2 separate regions of the Homo sapiens genome follow, and region 1 is linked to region 2. A link means that fine-mapping ties the variant in region 2 to the expression of a gene that starts in the linked region. Tissue or cell type: gastroesophageal junction. Region 2 holds a variant in brackets; the other region holds the start of a gene. All regions are shown on one strand. Distances are from middle to middle.

Region 1 (9,466 bases), 69 kb before region 2:
AAGGATTACTACATGGTTATTTCTCTTATAAACATCACTAAATTCTTTAAACTTCCTTAATTACTTTCTAAATGTGAGTTGGATATTTATTTGGTAAATTAAGTTCTTTTTACATTTTTTTTAATGCTTCTAGGATTTTTGGTCATTTGAGAGGTAGGAGAGATCTCTGAGAGAAATAGTAATATTCCTGCTAATTTATACAAGTGAAGGTTCAAGTAATTAATTTGAATTTTAAAAGATGTAATATCACTTGTATTCCAGTCTTATCCGGTTATAAATAAATAAAACTAAACAATGGTTTAAATACATGTAGGTAAAAAACAATCATGGAAAGAAAAAGTATTAGTAGAAGGTCAAACACTGAGGAAAAATAATGGAATTATCTATTCACAACGGTTTATATGGTTTATATAACTGCTAGCCCTGAATCTCAAATTTAGTTCTAGGATTTCTGTCAGCAAAATTAAAGAGTAAAAACAGAATAGTTTACAAGATAGAAGAAATATATCAGCTCCTCAGTAGGAACTAAGATCTTTGCCTTACATTAACATTTTAAACATTTTAATTGATAAATATAACATGTGTGTAGAAAATGAACAAAATGTACAGCTCAGTAGATTACCACAAAGCAAATACTTTTGTAATTAACAACTAGAACATGAAAATAAACAAAGCCAATAAATACATGAAATTCTCTCCTCCCTCTGTCCACTTCTAATCACTGTCCCTTCCCCCTCCCGAAGGTAACTATTATCCTGACCTTTATGGTAATCATTCCTAGATTTTTCTTTATCATTTTAACACTAAAGCTTACATCCCTATACAATATAGTAGAACTTTGCCTGATGGAATTTATATGGGATTTATTTAACATTATGGAGGAGGGTTGGGAGGTCTAGCTTTTTTTTGCTCAACTTTATGTTTGTCAGATTTATCCATGTTGTCGCACAGAGTTGTAGTTTTCATTTTCATTGCTATTTTGTTGTGTGAATATAGTTCAATATATTTATCATTCTACTGTTGGAAAGCATTTGGTCCACTTACAGTATGAAGTAATTTTGAATTGAATTTTACTGCTAAAAGCATTTTTCTTCTTCTTTGTTTTTTCTTTTTTTTTTCTGTTGCCCAGGCTGGAATGCAGTGGCACAATCATGACTCACAGCAAGTCAACTTCTGGGCTCAAGTGATTCTCCTTCCTAGTAGCTGGGACTACAGCCATGCGCCAAAATGCCCAGCTAATTTTTTGTATTTTTTGTAGAGATGGGTTTTCGCCATGTTGCCCAGGCTGGTCTCAAACTCCTGGGCTCAAGCAGTCCACCTGCCTCGGCTTCTCAAAGTGCTAGGATTACAGGCATAAGCCACTGCATCCCACCAAAGCATTTTTATAAACTGTATCTTGATGAACAAGTCCATGCATTTAAACAGAGAATATTCCTCAGAGTGGGATTGCTAGATCAAAAACTGGTTTCCAAAGTGGTTGTGCCAAATTATACTCTCACCAGCAGTACGTGACAGCTTCCATTGGTTTACTGCCTCAATACCTATATTGTCAGTCTTTTTAACTTTAGCCATTCTGATATGGTTTTCATTTGCATTTTCCTGATTAAAAATGAATCTGATTTTTCCATAAGTTTGTTGATAATATTTTCTCTTGTGAAGATCCTGCTCAAGGGTCTCATCCACTTTTGGTTTTGACAGTCAATCATTTCCTTAGTGATTTGTATCAGTTCTTCATATAACCTATATATAGGCCCTTAAATATGTCTTATAAATATTTTCTCCCAATTTGTGCCTTGCCCTTCCTTCTCTTTAATGTTGTTTTTGAATGGACAGAAGTTCTCAAATTATCAATTTTGTGTAGTCACATTTATAATTATGCCTGGTGACCTTTGTTTTATTTCAAATGCGTTCTGTCATGAAGACAATTTATACCTTCTAAAATGTTATTTTATCTTCTACAATTAAATTTATAATGAATATATATGCACCTGATTTGGGGATAAAGTTTGAGGTAAAGGTCATGTTTCTTTCTTTTTCTACATGAACATCAAATAGACCAAGCACTATTTAATTTCAAAAGTCCTTTTACCATTGCTCAGAAGGGTCACCTTTGTCTTAAATCGTGTTCATTTATATGGAAGTCTGTTTCTGTGCTATCCTGTTTCTTTCATCTTTGTCTATCCTGACACCATCATAACACTGTCTTAATTACCATATAAGTCTTGATACCTGGTAGATATCAACCCTCATTATTCTTCGAGAGATCTTCAAGAGTTTATTGATATTTTTGGTCCCTTGCATTTTCATATAAATTTTAGAAAAAACTTACCATGTTACACACACACAGTCACACACTGGGCCTTCATATGTATTTATGTTGAATCTATAGGTCAGTTTGGAAATAGCTGACATTGTAACAATATTGAGTCTCACAACCCATGAACATAGTGTAACCATTTATTTAGGTCTTCGTTTTCTTTCAAAAAAAAAATTTTTTTTTTTTTTGAGACGGAGTCTTGCTCTGTTGCCCAGGCTGGAGTGCAGTGGCGCAATCTCGGCTCACTGCAACCTCCACCTCCCAGGTTCAAGCAATTCTCTGCCTCAGCTCCCAAGTAGCTGGGATTACAGGCACCCGCCACCACGCCTGGCTAATTTTTGTATGTATGTATGTATGTATGTATTTACTTATTTTACACGAAGTCCCCCTCTGTCGCCCAGGCTGGAATGCAGATGCGCGATCTCTGCTCACTGCAAGTGCAGTGGCGCAATCTCGGCTCATTGCAACCTCCGCCTCCCAGGTTCAAGCAATTCTCCTGCCTTGGCCTCCCCAGTAGCCGGGACTACAGGCACGCACCACCATGCCCGGCTAATTTTTTGTATTTTTAGTAGAGACGGGGTTTCACCATGCTGGTCAGGCTGGTCTTGAACTCCTGACCTCGTGATCCGCCTGCCTCGGCCTCCCAAAGTGCTGAGATTACAGGCTTGAGCCATGGCGCCCGGCCTCAAAAATGTTTTATAGTTCTCTTTGTAGGAAGGACAATCTTTAACTTATTCCTAGTTACTTGCTATCTCATGCACTATTATAAATAGTATCTCTTTAAAACTTCAATTTTATATCTGTTGCTAATCTATTGAAACACATTGATCTTTGAATATTGACTTTGTATCCAGCAACTCTTAAATTAATTTAGTAATTTTTTCTACTTTCTTTTGGATTTTTCTATGCACATAGCATCTATGAAAAATTAACTGTATTTCCTCTTCTTGAGAAATTCGAAGACTCTCAATAATCTGAATTTGACTAACGTGCAATTTTCGTTGTAAATTCAATAAAAAGTTGCTAGTGTATTCAATCTTTCCAACTCACAAGCTCCCACTCTCAGTTTACGCGGACCTGACTACTACCCGAACAACCCCCACCAGTCTGGAGGATTTTGAGCCTAGACACTCCTCCAGAGCAGGCTCCTGTCCCGGCTGCGGAAGTGCGCGCGCCCTCGGCACCTTAACAGTTCCGCCCCTCTCCCGGACCCAGCCAATCAGCGGCCGCCTCTTGCGCGCGCCCCACCGACCAAAATGGCGGCTGCCGTTGGTGCGGGGTGCGGTTTGTAGTGCTGTTGCCCTACTCATCCCTTTGCAAAATGTGAAAGAAGAAGCGGCTGGTGGAGGCGGGCCATAGGCAATGAGTCGGCGAAGGAAACATGATGACAGCCCTAGCCCGAAGAAAACGCCGCACAAAACAGTGGCGGCGGAGGAATGCGGCTCGGTGGTCGAGCCAGGGAGGAGGCGGCTGAGATCGGCCCGCGGTTCGTGGCCCTGCGGGGCTAGAGAGGGGCCTCCCGGGCCAGTGCGGCAGCGAGAGCAGCCTCCGACCGCCGCCCTGTGCAGTAAAAGTAACCCCGAGGGTGAGACGTCGGCAGCGCGGCCTGCCTTGGCTTCGGCGCCGCATCCCCACATCCCAGCTTGCAACAGGGAAATCTGGGGTGGGGGTGGAGTCTGGAGCGTGTATTCTGTCTCTGGGATTCACCCCTCGAGAGTCCAAAAATAATCCTATACCACTCCCCGATGGGCTTTTGTCCCCGAACTTCAGCACTACCCCGTTAGGTTTGACCATCCATTTGCCTCCGCCACAGGAATAGGTAATGTGGTTTACCTGTTTGCGGGAGGGCGGCTGCTTTCCAGGCTGCTCCTCCAGTCAGCAGCAGTGGTGGAGTGAGAAGAAACAGCTGATAGGCCCGCTAACCTCAGTTTTTGCCCGGAGAAGTTATTTCTCTTTAAACCCTTTTTTTCCCTGTGACCTGCTTTAGAGAAGAGTTCATAGGAAAAGTTAAAGTTTGTCTCAAAGCCTGGTAGATGTCTCACCTCATTGTGAATAAACCGGAAGTTCCTGTGTGTAACATCCCTCCAAATAAGATACTAAGGATCTCTTTCGTCTCGATTAGTTTTAGGTGTTACTTTTTAAAAGACTTCTAGTAAATCTTAGTTGGAACTGAAACTCATACAAAAGCCTTTATTCTGGAGCATGTTCTTGAAATAGTGCTTTTTTTTTTTTTTTTTTTTTTATACCTTACGTGTCTTTTTTCTTTTGGGAAAGAATCTCGCCCTGTCGCCCAGGCTGCAGTGCAGTAGCACAATCTCGGCTCACTGCAACCTCCGCCTCCCGGGTTCAAGCGATTCTCCTGCCTCAGCCTCCCAAGTAGCTGGGACTACAGGCGTGTGCCACCTCGCCCGGCTAATTTTTTGTATTTTTGGTAGAGACAGGGGTTTCACCGTGTTAGCCAGGATGGTCTCGATTTCCTGACCTCGTGATCCACCCGCCTCGGCCTCCCAAAGTGCTGGGATTACAGCCACCGCGCCCGGCCACCTTACATGTCTTTAATAATACTCCTATAAAGCAATTTGGGAATGAACAAAAATCTTTATAAAAATTTGAAAGTGATTCTAGACAAAAATTCCCAAGCATTGGATCACTAATGGTTTTTGAAGAATGGCAATTAATGTAGATTAGATAGAGTTGGTGAAAGGGGGCTAAACATATTTAGGTTTCTGTTGGGTTACTTTGGATTTTTGAATGTACCTATAAATTACAGATGGTTCCCCAAAGCCTCCAAGACTCAATGGTAATAAATAGAATGACTTAGGTTATACAGTATTGTATTATGCATTCATAAAGCTTCTGGATTATCTAGAAGTGTTTGCTATTTACAATGTGAAGTTTGCGAAGTGCCGCGTGGATTTTTATGTGAAACAAGCATTTCTGTTACGGTTCAGGTAATTATCTCTGGGAAAAAAAATTATCTTGGACTATAAAAGTTAGTCTCAGCTATTTGACCTTGGGGTCTTACGAAGTAAGGTAATGCTTTAAAATGCAACAATTGTTATTTTACTCATATTTTATATAGAAAGGTATGAAACACCAAAGAGAGCGCTGAAAATGGACTCACTGTCATCTTCCTTCAGTTCTCCTAATGATCCAGATGGACAGAATGATATCTTTTGGGATCAGAATTCTCCATTGACAAAGCAGTTAGGTAATTAATTATTAACATTTTTTATGTGAGTAAATATTTGATAAATGATTCAGATTTAACTAGAATTCTAGTCAGATAATAGCATCGGGAACCTCTGAGAATGTTATATGATTTTATCTGTATAAGTATGTGATGTAAACACATAATCCTCTAAGCTGCACTAAATAAAATTACTTTCTAAGAAGTGACAGCTGTTTTTTAAAATGGAGGGTTTTTTGTTTAAAATTTATAGAAATGTCTTTGTTTCTTTAGGTAAAGGAAGAAAAAAACAGATTTACACCACAGATAGTGATGAGATTTCACATATTGTTAATCGTATTGCTCCTCAGGTAAATATCACTAGTTTTACAGTTTGTTTTAAAACAGTGAAGAATGTGCCACTAAGTTTTTGTAGTTTCTTTAAATGAAAAGTATTGTCTATTATAATTCTTTTTTCCAAAAATAAGGCAGCAAAGATTACTGTTTTGCCTTTTCTACTTTTGAAATACATATTTTGAAAAAAGGAATATAATATAAAATACAAGATATTTTCTTAAGTATATATCTTGTTTTAATTTTTTAGAGTAATTTTTGACTAGGGCATTGTGTTTATCTGTAATGTTGTGCTTAACAACATACGACATCATTTTTCAAGTTGCTAAAATAATAGAATAAGGCAGTGAAAAAAGTTTATACTTCTATGATTGTTTTGTGATTGGTACTTCCTGTCTGTAACATTTCCCCATTGAAACTATTAATACTCATTTCCTTATAAGATTATCAAGAAACACTTACAAAAGTGGAGAGCACTGAATTCAAATTTAGTCCTCATTCAACCTCCTATGCTGTGTGACCCAGTGCAAGTTATTTAAACTCCCACCACTTCAGTTCATTCAGCCATGAACTAGAATTATTGTGTTGCTCTTGCTGTCTTCATTGGATCATTATGAGAATTAAACTAGATAAAAATTCTTTGTAAACTATAGAGTGCTATAATTGTAAGGTTACGTTAAGGTTGTTACTGTAATAGAACCATCTCCAAAGCTTTTTTTTCTTTTCTTGGACAGGCATGGTGACTCATTCCTGTAATCTCAGCATTTTGGGAGGAAGGCTGAGGCAGGAAGATTGCTTGAGGCCAGGAGTTTAAGACCCTGTCTCTTAAAAAAAATTTTTTTTTGAGTGTTTCGTTTCTTTTTTTCATTTCTGTTCTTTTATTGTTTGAGTGAAATAGAAATATGTTCAAGTCAATCATTTGACACAAAGCAATCCAGTAACTCTAATATTATAATTACTAAGAAGCAAAGGCTCAATACGTGAAACTGTTCTGAACTTCTTTACTTTTTGTTCTCTTTTTCTTATTTAACATTTAAATCCAGAGAACATTTTTGCTTAGTGTCTTCTCTGAAGGAAGTATGCCATTTTTCCTTAACCTGCGCTTGAATAGTTACTATATGTTGACCATAAACAATAGATGGCACTGGCCCAAAACATGGTTTGAAGAATTACTGTCACCCAGGTGGAAGAGACAGAAAATGAAGTTTTTCTTAGCAGCTATAAAATATCCAAAATTACACCTAGCACAGTCAAAACAACTCTGTTGCTACTAGCTCTACATTCCATTTTTAGCATGTCATAGAAATTCATTTTACTTACAGTTAATTAGTTAAATAGCATTTATGCCATAATAGTACTTACTCTATAAGTTAACAATAGATCTTCATTAATTGTGGGTTTCACATGAAAGAAGCATAATAAAATGTGTTTGGGTGGGCCAGTCTAAATAGTGATAAAAAGATAGTTGTGAATAAATTATTGGACTCTTTACCTAAGTGGGCTAGAAATAATAGCTCATATAAAGAAATGACAACAGTACGCAAGTGGTAACTTGTATAAAAGAAAAAAATATAGTGAAATTAGTAGCTTTAAAATGTTACCCTCTTAAACTGAGTACTTTTAAAGCATATAAATCTTTAGCAGTTTCAAGGTCTGTTTGAAAGCTTGTCATGTTCTCAGAATGACAAATACTTATATTGTTTATTTTTAGGTGAGTCATTCTCAAATCATTTAGTTTTAACATTTTCAGAGATAGCATTTTTTTAAATATGCGCTTTTATTTTGGTTGGACAGTCAGTTCACTTTTTGCAGGGATACTTTTATACAATGTTGTTTATTTGAAGATGGTATGTATCTTCATTTATACAGCTTTGCACAGTATACTTTTTATAATGAAATGAAGTAATGCATTTAGATACCTTATACAGCACCTGGATTATGGTTGAAAATCAATAAATTATGTAATTATTCATGAAGAAATATGTAATAACATGTATAAATAGTATACAAACATACATAGGACCCATGTATATGTAAAGTTGGGTACATAAAGTCATAATTTAGTTCTCTGAAAATTGAATGAATTTAAAATTACTTTTGTAAATGGCAGAGTTCATAATTAAGACTATGATTGTCTTTAAATTCAAGATTGTTGAAATAAAAGGGAAAATATATTGAGTCTGAAAGTGAAATTACTGATTTTCTTGAGTATTTGCAAAGCTAAAGGCAACTAGGTTCAAGTTGACATTAAGAAAACTTTTTTGATTCATTGAGGATTTGAAGTACCAAACTGTAGGGATCTTTTCACCTAAATCTTCTAGTAAATAAATGTATACTGACACTGGTATGCCCAATATTGTGCTGGATGCTGAGTTATTCTAAGAAGAGTCCTTGCCTTTGAGTAGCCTATAATCTAGTAGTAAAATTATTTTTTAAATTGTGTGATATTTATGTTCATTCTAGGTACTATAAAATAGAGTGAAAATGGTTACTTGATTTGATTTGTTGGTTTGGTTTGCAATTAATGCCTAAAGCTCATTCTGTAATTTTTTTGTGTGATCAAGTGACTGAAAGGTACAGCAAAAGTATCCAGGTCTAAAATGCCTTTTTTCTGTATATTATCTGGGCTAAACTTTTCTGTTTTCTCTATTTTTTTATTCTTATTCCTGTCTCATTCTTAGCATCAGTTCTAACCTTGCTCTTATCTCTTAATTCATTCCTGATCTTAATTCTGAGTGTTCTTAATTTAGGTCAACATGGATTGTCCAACTTTAGATAAAGATTATAATAAGGATAAAGAAAATTTGGAGAAACAGATGATACAGAAAGAATTCCATATGTATCTCCTCTCAATTCTGATGATTTCTGCCACACAGTTTCTGACACTAATGTTTTTATAAGTATCTTAGGACAATTAAAATGTCAATTTTCTTTTGATAAAAACATGCTTCTGTTATTAAATGTACATTTGATAAATTTAATTCTTAAAACAATATTTTTTTAAAATAAGCAATTTGTAATTCTGAATGTTTTCATTCTCTGAAACATAAGTGGATCAATTATTGTAGCTTATTATTGCTATCTCCCAACTTCCTATTGTTTTTGAGTTTGGTAAGTGTTACCTCACCAGAATTTAGGAAATTAATTCAAAATCATTAGTTTTTATTGTCTTTTTTCTTTCTTTTGTTTTTTTGGAAGACGGGGGATGCTACACTGGTACTTTATACCTCTTTTTTTCCCTATCTGCCAAAGGATGAAAAACCAACAACAAATTCTATGCTGGACATGTGGATTGGTGAAACTGCTATTCCTTGTACTCCCAGTGTAGCAAAAGGAAAATCAAGAGCAAAAATCAGCTGCACAAAGTAAGTTAAGACTTTTCAGCTTTTCTGAAATTCAGTGAAGCAAATATTTTTTGATAATACTCCATTTTGGTTTTGTGAATATATCAAAATTTTTGTTAATAAAATTTCCACAGTTTTGATCTATCAAATTTTGGAGTTAAAATAATTATAACTGTTAAAATCTTAGAGCTTTAACATCAAAATATGTTAAATAACAGTTGGATATAATGTTTCAGAACATTTTTAGTTATTTTTTAATCTTGTTTAATAGGTTAAAAACAC
Region 2 (9,466 bases):
AAAATCAATAAAAAACAGTGAAATATTCCTGAAAGGTGCATGTAGGCTCTTCTCCCCTGCCCCTGCCTATTTATAGTACTTATAGGTGAATACATCCACTACGCCTATGATCCTCTGAGAGTGGTTGGATGCTTTTATCTTCCAACCTGGAAATATGTGAATGTAAAGCCATGATGTAACACACAGGAACACACCCTTTACCTAGGAACACACCCTTTGCCTAGGAACACACCCTTTGCCTAGGAACACACCCTTTCATGTACTTACATTTGAGACTAAATAAAAAGTCTCTGCAAATTTCATGAAATTATTTAAATACAAGGCACACTTGCAAACTATAATCATTTTGCATCTCAATGAAAGACACAGAATCATAATCAAAATTGCAATATCTAGTTTTAATGTACTGGATTACATTAAAATAGTATTACTATTTGAGAATCAAAAAGAAAAAAATATAAGTAAAAAGGCAAGAAAAATATTTTTTAATGTTGAAGTCCTGATAGGAGACTTTGCTATGTAGATTTAGGCATCAGGGAAGACTTTTCACATCAGAAATGCCAGCCACTTTCCCACAAGAAAGAATATTATGTGCACATCTTAATAATTCAGTTCACTAGAACTTTTTCTGATTCTCCTTCCTCTATTTGTAAAATAAACAATTTTAAAAAGCTTCATGTAGTAACCATGGAAAAAGAAAAAGGCATGTATTGATAATCTGAGATTGGTGATTTTTTTTTTTTTAAAGAATTGGTATGTCAAAAGCATATGCTGTGCCTCATGGCCAATATGGAAATGTCAGGGGTTTAATTGGCAGCTGTGAATAGCAGCACCTGCAAACAGCTCAGGGCTTGTTCCTGTGGTCTGGCAACATTCTTACTTAATGCTTTAAATAAAGGCTTACTCACTGGGACAGAAATAACTGACAATGGATGATTGATGATTGTCCATCACGCAATGGCTGACGTCTACCATTCACCAGGTCTGTTTACGAGCGCACGCCCAGATTTCATTAACAGGGGCATGACATCCAGGAGTGGGCCTGCCACAGATGGCCAGTCAGTAATCTAGTTCAAAACACCTAGAAGAGACCAAGATTTGTTAATCTGGAAAAATAGATTGTTGCAGATTCAGAATGCCTTATGAAGATGATTTTCAAAGTTCCCTTTTCTTTTTTTCTGCTTGTGTTCTTTTGTTTTGTCAATGTGTTTGGTTTCAAGTTCAATGTCAGGTTACATTTCTCTGATTCTTATTCCATACTGACTTTGCATTTGAAAGATGCGATGGCAGAAAGACGTATACAAGGAATTATATTTCTAATCATTAATTTATAACACTAATGTCTGGGGGACTATTCAAGCTTTGAGTATAGTCAATTTTACTATTTCAATTAGGAGGGCAAAAAAAGTGCAAAGAAATAAATCCACAGTGCATATACATGGCTAACGTGAATTTTCACACCTGGACATTCGTCAGCCCACAGCACGCCTCCAGGTACAGCCAAAAAACACACCAGCATATGTGGTGTACTGCAAAGAGCACTGGGATAGCAAACCTTTCCAAATAAACACCGCTAAATTAAAGCAGCTTTGCCCTGTTCAGTAAAACAGCCCATAGTATCTTGGGCTGACATGTTGTAGTATGAGACTAACACTAAGCTTTAGTTTTCTTCTTCCTGTTTCTCCTCCCTAAAGTCTCTTTTTCCCAGCTACAATGTTTTGTGGTACACATATACCTTGATTATTATTTCTCTCCAGTTAAGGATTAATCTCCTCTGATGCACTTACAAACCTTTTCATGGTTAGTGACTGGACCATGGGTTGGTTTGTTTGCTTGTTGGTGGGTTTTATTTTTTGGCCTACCTTTTGGACAGTGGCAGTTTCTACATCCTGTTTGGGAAAGGTGATGTCTTTGTCTTAAGTAATGGAGTCTTCCCCTAGAATTTTGCTCATTGCCTTTTCAACCACTTGTGAACTTATTTCTACAAATGGTTGTATTCTAGGCATTTCATTGGCAAAACTTGAGTAAAGTGGCCTATTTGTTTTTAGCCCTTTCTGAGTCTCACTGTATTCTCCTGAGGAAAATAGGGCAGGGATCATTTTCTTGTCATTTCAGTGCAAGAAAAGCTAGACCAAGAGAAGTCAAGCAACTGGAACCACATCCCACAACTTTAGCTAGCACAAGAGCCTCTACGAGCATCCAGGACTCACATGTGGCACTTGAGGGATCTTTCCACTGGGCTATTTGGGTGTGAGGCATGTGGACTGGATGGCACAGATCACCTGCTTTTTGGGGTCATCAATGAATATACAACCATAGCTAGAGAATGGCTGCCCTGCCAAAGTCCTAATTCAACCCCAAACAGTGTGCATAGCAGTGAACAAACATGGAGGACCAAGCATGTGCCAAAGGCCATGCTCTTTGCCATTCAGAACATTACTGCAAAATAAGAAAGGTCTGCCTTGCCTCTGAAATTGCTACCTTTGAATATGTATCTATCTTGGCTTTTTAAGTACTTTTTGTTTTGTTTTGTTTTGCTGTACAATCTGCTGTCTCTCCTTTTGTTTAATTGCATTCAGTTTTACAATTTCCCCCAGGAAAAGCAGCTAATTATATTTTAGCACAGAGAGAGGCAGGTGTTAGCTAAGATGTAAGAGTCCTAATTTTAGCCTTGATAATTCATGCAGTTTAGCTGGATCTCAATGTAAAGTCACCAGACTGGGTGTGTGAGCTCATCATTTTAGGCTTTCTGAAATTTGCATGGGATCATGTGACTACAGATTTGCACTTTGAGCTTGTAAATGACAAAGGGTTGGCAATAATTGAAATGGTTGTGTTGTAATCTTGTGTCCAAGGAAATATGGTCCAATGGTAAATCCAAATAAACTGAACATGGGAAGTGCATTTGGATAAGATCATTTGGATAAGCAGCCAGGCTTCTTGGGGTTGAACCCTGTCTGTACATTTCCTAGCTGTGTGACCTTGCGCAAGTCATTTAACCTCTCTGTGCTTCTGTTTCTTTATCTAAAAATTTAAGATAGGCCTGGGCGTGGTGGCTCACGCCTGTAATCCCAGCACTTTGGGAGGCTGAGGCGGGCAGATCACGAGGTCAGGAGATCGAGACCATCCTGGATAACATGGTGAAACCCCATCTCTACTAAAAATATAAAAAATTAGCCAGGTGTGGTGGCAGGCACCTGTAGTCCCAGCTACTTGGGAGGCTGAGGCAGGAGAACGGCATCAACCCAGGAGGCAGAGCTTGCAATGAGCTGAGATTGTGCCACTGCACTCCAGCCTGGGGGACAGAGAAAGACTCCATCTCAAGAAAAAAAAAATTAGGATAGTGTCAGTATATATCTGTAGGTCGTTGTGGGGATTAAATGAGGTAAGTTATGTAAAACTCATCACAATACCTGGGTCATAGCTAGGTATCTATATTTTTATATTCAGGGAATAATTGTATTGGAAAAGCCTAAGATTTTTGGAACAGCAACAGCAGCAAAGGCAGAAATTAGAGAAATATCCAGAAGCAAATTCTCCTCTAACAAATATTGGCATTTCAGAACATATCTGAAACAAATGTTTGCTCTTGAGATGAGTAGGTTCCCCAGTACTGAGATCATCTTCGTTTCCATGGACATGGCATTTACAGTCAAAATATCCAATTATATCCGTGAGAATACTCCTCCAATTGTTCTGATGTGTTTGTGTGTGTCTCTGTGTGTGCTTGTGTGTATGTAGGACTTTCTTCCAGGTTCAGAGATAGTAGGGGGCAGTGTCATGTAGACCAAACAACCAAACGACTTACTGAATTTTTTTCATCCCTACTGGTTGTTTTAAGTAGGGACAGCTCTGGCCCAACTCTGTTGACTGTAGCTTCTGAGCTGTTCTCACAGGGCCTACAGGGGAGTTACTGATTGTTTTCCCAGGAATCTGCCAAGTGCGGTGGTGTATGATGGAACATGCCACTTCCCTATCTCTGGAACCTGAGTATGAGTTGAGAATAATGATCATTTCTGCTAATGAGTAATTAAAAACAATTTCAAGACTACCTCTAAC[C/T]TCTGCATTTGTGAATGCCACCCTTTCTTAAATGCTATACCGAGGTTCTTTGCTAAGGCTCAAAGTCTTCCATTCCTCTCTCTGACTCCAAATTCAATCAATCAAGTCTTCCTTTCTAGTAGTTCTCATATTTATTTTATTCACTCTATTTAAGATCCACTTTATCTTTCATTTGGACTATATAATGACCACCCATAGAGCCTTCCTGATTCTAATCTGTCTCCCTTGAAATCCCTAATCCAGCCTCCAAAGTGCCTCTAGAGTAATATTTTTTAAATCACAAACTTTTTCATGGTTCACCATTGTCCACAGAATCAAAGCCAAGTTTCTTTGTATTGCACAAAAGGCTTTGCATGATTTAGTTCCTGACAGCATGGCCAGCCTCATCTCCCTCCTCTTGCTGCCTGCGTTCTAACTACACAAAGCTGTTTGAAGTTTTGTATCTCTCTCTTCCCTTTTTCTCTCTCTGGTGTTTCATTCTTTAATGCTCTCCTAAACATTATTTCCTGTGTACAAATCATCTTCCTTTTGTGACTGTAGCATGCTTCTATTAATATTTTAAGATTTGCTCATGCCTGTAATCCCAGCACTTTGGGAGGCTAAGGTGGGCAGATCACGAGGTCAGGAGATCAAGACCCTCCTGGCCAACATGGTGAAACCCCGTCTCTATTAAAAATACAAAAATTAGCTGGGTGTGGTGGCGGGTGCCTGTAATCCCAGCTACTCGGGAGGCTGAGGCAGGAGAATTGCTTGCACCCGGGAGGTGGAGGTTGCAATGAGCCGAGATCACGCCACTGCACTCCAGCCTGGTGACAGAGCAAGACTCCATCTCAAATAAAATAAAATAAAATAAAATAAAATAAAGATTCTGCTTGGGTTTACCTTTTCCTTGACTTCTACAGAAAAAAAATTGTCATTTCTTCCTCTGGGCTATCTTTGTACAGATACAAATGAGATTGGTACACTGTATGGTATTTGTTTGTTTTACATCTGTTTCCTTTACTAGATAGTATGTCTTTGAATGTGGACCATTTCATTCATTTTTATTTCTATAATCATTATCATGGCCTTTAGGTACAAGGTAGATATACAATGTGCATTGTGAACAGTTATTAATAGTTACACAGTAATTCAAAGATTCATCTAGACAACTATATATAACATTGGATAAGAATTGAAAATTCTAGCTTGTGTAAATGAAGCATTTATTGAGAAACATGCCTTAGATTGAAACAATTCTTCATCTGATGCCTTTGATGATGCAACCCAGGCAAATACTTGCTTACCATCCTCAAAAATTCTATAACTCATCAAACTTAATTAAACGGTTAGAATCTTATCCTTTTAATTAGTGCTTGCACTTGAAAACTTTAAAAATAATGTCAATAATGACTAATAAGCTTTGAGCTTTTTGGTTTACGTGGTTCCGTCTCTAATTGTTGGCAGATTGCTACAGTCCTATCCTTTTGCAACACTGTGTATTTTGTATGAAAGTGACTTTTCCTCTTATTTCAGAGGGAGGAGAACATCCAAAATAATTACTAAGGAGAGAATATCTGAAATAATTAGGGAACAAACTTTGAGGACTCAAAAACAAGCACATGTCATCACCTCTCAAGATGGGCATATCTGGAAGGCCTATGTTATTCTTATTGCTGCGGTGGGGGACCCATGTCCTCCATACCCAAGCCTCTTGAAGCTTATAGAGTAGAAAATTCCTCACAATTTTCATTAAGAACCATTATATCAAGGGAATCATCATTCAGCTATGACAGATTGCTTTGCAGTGTAATGTTTTTCATCTTGAGAGCAAATGTTTCTTCAATCAATTTTTTTAAAGGGAGAAAGTAAGTAGTTATTTTGAATACATGTAAAATGCAAATAAAGTGACTATGGATGTTTGGGGAGCTCATACAATAGTAAGTCCAAAATAACTTTGATTTAAAAATTGAACATTGGCAAGTGATCAATCAATACTGGCCTCTAACTGCTTTTAGTGTCTTGACTAAATAAAAATGTTATTTTAGTGGCAGAGACATTTCACCTTGAAAAGCGGCCATGGAGCATGCACAATGACTACAAGGATGTTTTCCCTGGAATACATAATCCACACGCTCAGCTTCATGCACATCCTGGATACTGCCTGCCTCTGATTGACATAAGGCATTTTAATTTAAAAATGTTTCTCAAAGTGCCTAAACATATGTTTATGCACTATAGCTATTGAGTAGTATTACATAGAAATGCAAAATCTTGGAATGAAAGTTGACTCTGTGCAGGACCACACAATGGAATATAATGGAAACCAGAAAAGGAGAGGACTTGTGTCATTTTGTAGGCAAGGCAAAAAAAAAAAAAAAAAAATCCTTTAACAATTCAGTCATGTTAAAATTGGGAGACAATACTGACATAAGAAATACAGTCGATGTTAAGACAGTAGAGTCCTTCTTCACCACAGCAGGTCTAGACAGCTCCCACAGCCATGTCTGCCCTCTCACAGGGTGATATGTAGCCCTTCTTAGAGGGTGGTAAGAGCTCCGAAGGGAACATCAGTGCAGGGTCTTAGTTAATTTCCTTTTGCACAGGTGTCTGTGTCATAGTGGTTTTAAATTTGCTAGGAGGCAGCTTAATGGGGACAGCCTTAGGTGCACAACACTGCAACTCACCAAACCTCAAGGCAAAGTGCTCACCCGATAGAGAACGCATGTGGTTCCTTCCTGGCTGAGACTTTGTGCCAGAATCCAGCTTTATGCACCTCCCTTTCTGTCCCAGAAGGGGCTTCACCGACTTGCATGATGTGCTGTGCGTGGCCAAGACTGCTTCTTGTGGTGTGTGCTAGGTGAATACAGATTCAGCTCTCCTCCCAGTGTTCTGTGGGAATGGTGGTGACAGATATTGGATGGTTCTAAATACAGATATCAGAATGTCTACAATAAGATGCATAGAACATAATCCAAGTGAGATGCAGTGCTTCAACCATATAGCCTGTGCCCCAATTATTGATGGCAAATAATGAGCTAGATCTGATCCAGCCCCTCCTCCAGAGGCAATGCAGTCCATTTCTTTTCTTTTTTTGGAGATGGAATCTTGCTCTGTTCCCCAGGCTAGAGTGCGATGATACGATCTTGATCTCAGCTCACTGCAACCTCCGCCTCCCAGGTTCAAGCAATTCTCCTACCTCAGCCTCCCAAATAGCTTGGATTACAGGCACATGCCAACATGTCCAGCTAATTATTTAATTTTTTTTAGTAGACAGGGTTTTACCACGTTGGCCAGACTGATCTTGAACTCCTGACCTCAGATGATCTGCCCACTTCAACCTCCTTAAGTGCTGGGATTACAGGCATGAGCCACTGCGCCTGGCCAATACAGTCAATTTATTATGAACTCCTGTGTCATTGATGATTTGTCTATATCAGTGGTTCCCAATTAAACTGACAGGAGCCTGGCACTGTGATGCCCTGGGGAGAAGGGTGACAAAAAGAATCCAGTATTGCAATTCTGCTATCAGCCAAATGGAGCTTCTTTTGCTGAAACCTTGGATTTTTAACAGCAGTGATAACCTCTGAGAATCACCTTGGGATTTTGGAGGAAGTAAAGTTGAAAAATGACCCTTGGATACTAAACTTGTTTAGGGCAGGAATATGGTTTTCTATAACTTCATTGAGGGTGGGAATATTTGGTCAGAAACAACACTTTACTATACCTGCACTGAGCATCCAATTGTCCTCCGATTGGTTGAAAAATGAAATTTTTCATAGAGCTTCAAATCCAGTCTTCTGGTCTCGAGGTCTGGAAGGCAGGGCTCTTGTTCCAACTTTGGGCCACTGAAGTTTTCAAACCTTGGTATTTCCTTCTGAAGCTGCTGTGGAATCTTCAGCTTCACTGCACTACAGGACTAATGAAGGCAGGTTTTCTGAAACTGTGAAGGGTACCTTTTTAGATTCTAACTTCTTCATTTGTAAAATGATGTTAGCAATGTGGTATTACCAAAATGATGTTACCATGATGATTTCTATCTAAGGCTCCTTCTGTTCTGTCACAGATCACTCCATGATTCTGATTACCATTCTCTGTAAGACTTTCTCTTATTGTTCTGGGATACTTGAAAGAATATTTCTCGTATAGTTAGAAGCTGATCATTTTAAATTCTCTTTAGACAAATGTTTCTTTCATGTGGTGCACCATTTTCAAATGCAATTTGGGGCCGCTTTTTTCTTGTTGGATCTGAGATGGATCACAGGGGTTTGCCCCTAGTCTTCAAACACACAAGCAAACCAGGGTCTGGGAGATTTATAGTTTACATCATCATCGTTGTCGTAGTCATCATCCTCATCCTCATGATCTTCTTCTTGTTTTTTTTTCCCCCTCCAGATTTAATCTAGCAGACTACACTGACCTGGCTTAAGAATTTTTCAAATATAAATGATCTAAATGTTACCTTACTTGGCAAAACAAAGGCAGAGCAAGTAATTTTCTCAAATCTCTCTTCGGGCATGCCTTATAAGGAAGATTTTCTTTCTGGGGGGATTTAGACTCTCATTAATCTATTTCTTCTTTCAACAATAAAATGAAAAATGGAATGAGATTATCAAAATGGATAGTCTGGTGTGGACCTGATAACACGCTTTTGAAAAGTGGTTTACATTTGACATCAGTTAAGCTCCTTGGGCCAAGGCGTCTCAGGTCTGCTATGTGGGGCCTGGACTCCACTCCCAGTGTGGTCACAAATATGCTTTATTGTTTCAAAGGCCTCTCAAGGCAGTTGGAAGGATGAATGAATTCCTAGGGCAGTAAGTATTAAGTCATCGGCAAAACTATAAATATCTCCTAACCCTATCTTATGGAGAACTTATACAAAGACATTTTTGTGCAGTATGCTTTTTCCTTAACCTAGACATATATGTATTTTAAATTTGTATTATTTTACACATTTTTATACATGGTACAAAAAGGTAGGTAGTATAAAGTGAGCAATATAGATATTTAAAAGTTGATGCATCTTTCTTTGTGCCCTTTGGCACACAGAGTGTGACTGTTTCTTCTGTAAGGATTTTTAACAATCTTGAAGGAGTGGAAAATTCTGTGTTTCTTGTAATTGCAAGGACAATGGCAGTTAAAAAAGCCAATGTATAACTTCAAAATAATCATTTCAAAGTAATTATTCAGAACGTACAGAGTAGCTTAAAGAAAAACAACAAGCTGACAACACACCTTATAGTATTCACTGGCTTTAAAACCTGTGCTTGTAATTGAAAGTGAGATTAGCAGAAGTGACTGAATCCATGCTAGGGGAGATGTGGTTGGGACGTAGACGTCATCCCTATGTTCCACTCAACTGATTAAAAATTTCTTGATCACCCCTCACACTCTTCATTCCATTCTCTCAAAATCAGATTTGTGGACT

Direction of the effects. Alleles are on the strand shown, and positions count from the first base shown. SD is a standard deviation of normalised expression in the study named.
With allele C in place of T in region 2, the expression in gastroesophageal junction of the gene that starts at base 3,564 in region 1 is lower (large effect, 0.85 SD a copy in GTEx).

The links. PIP is the estimated chance that this variant, and not a neighbour inherited with it, causes the effect.
Region 1: ETAA1 starts here. The variant in region 2 is fine-mapped to the expression of ETAA1 in gastroesophageal junction (GTEx, PIP above 0.99). The same link has a PIP of 0.9 or more in stomach.

Annotation. Positions count from the first base shown.
Region 1 is chr2:67,393,770-67,403,235 of GRCh38, forward strand. ETAA1 (ETAA1 activator of ATR kinase) reads left to right here and starts at 3,564. Exons shown (of 6, transcript NM_019002.4): 1 at 3,564-3,902; 2 at 5,400-5,528; 3 at 5,781-5,857; 4 at 9,093-9,205; 5 at 9,456-9,466. The coding sequence starts at 3,680.
Region 2 is chr2:67,463,116-67,472,581 of GRCh38, forward strand. It overlaps LOC107985891 (a long non-coding RNA gene), which reads right to left and starts at 1,382. Exons shown (of 3, transcript XR_001739520.2): 1 at 909-1,382. RefSeq lists an enhancer at 676-1,256. The variant C/T (reference allele first, on the strand shown) is at 4,060.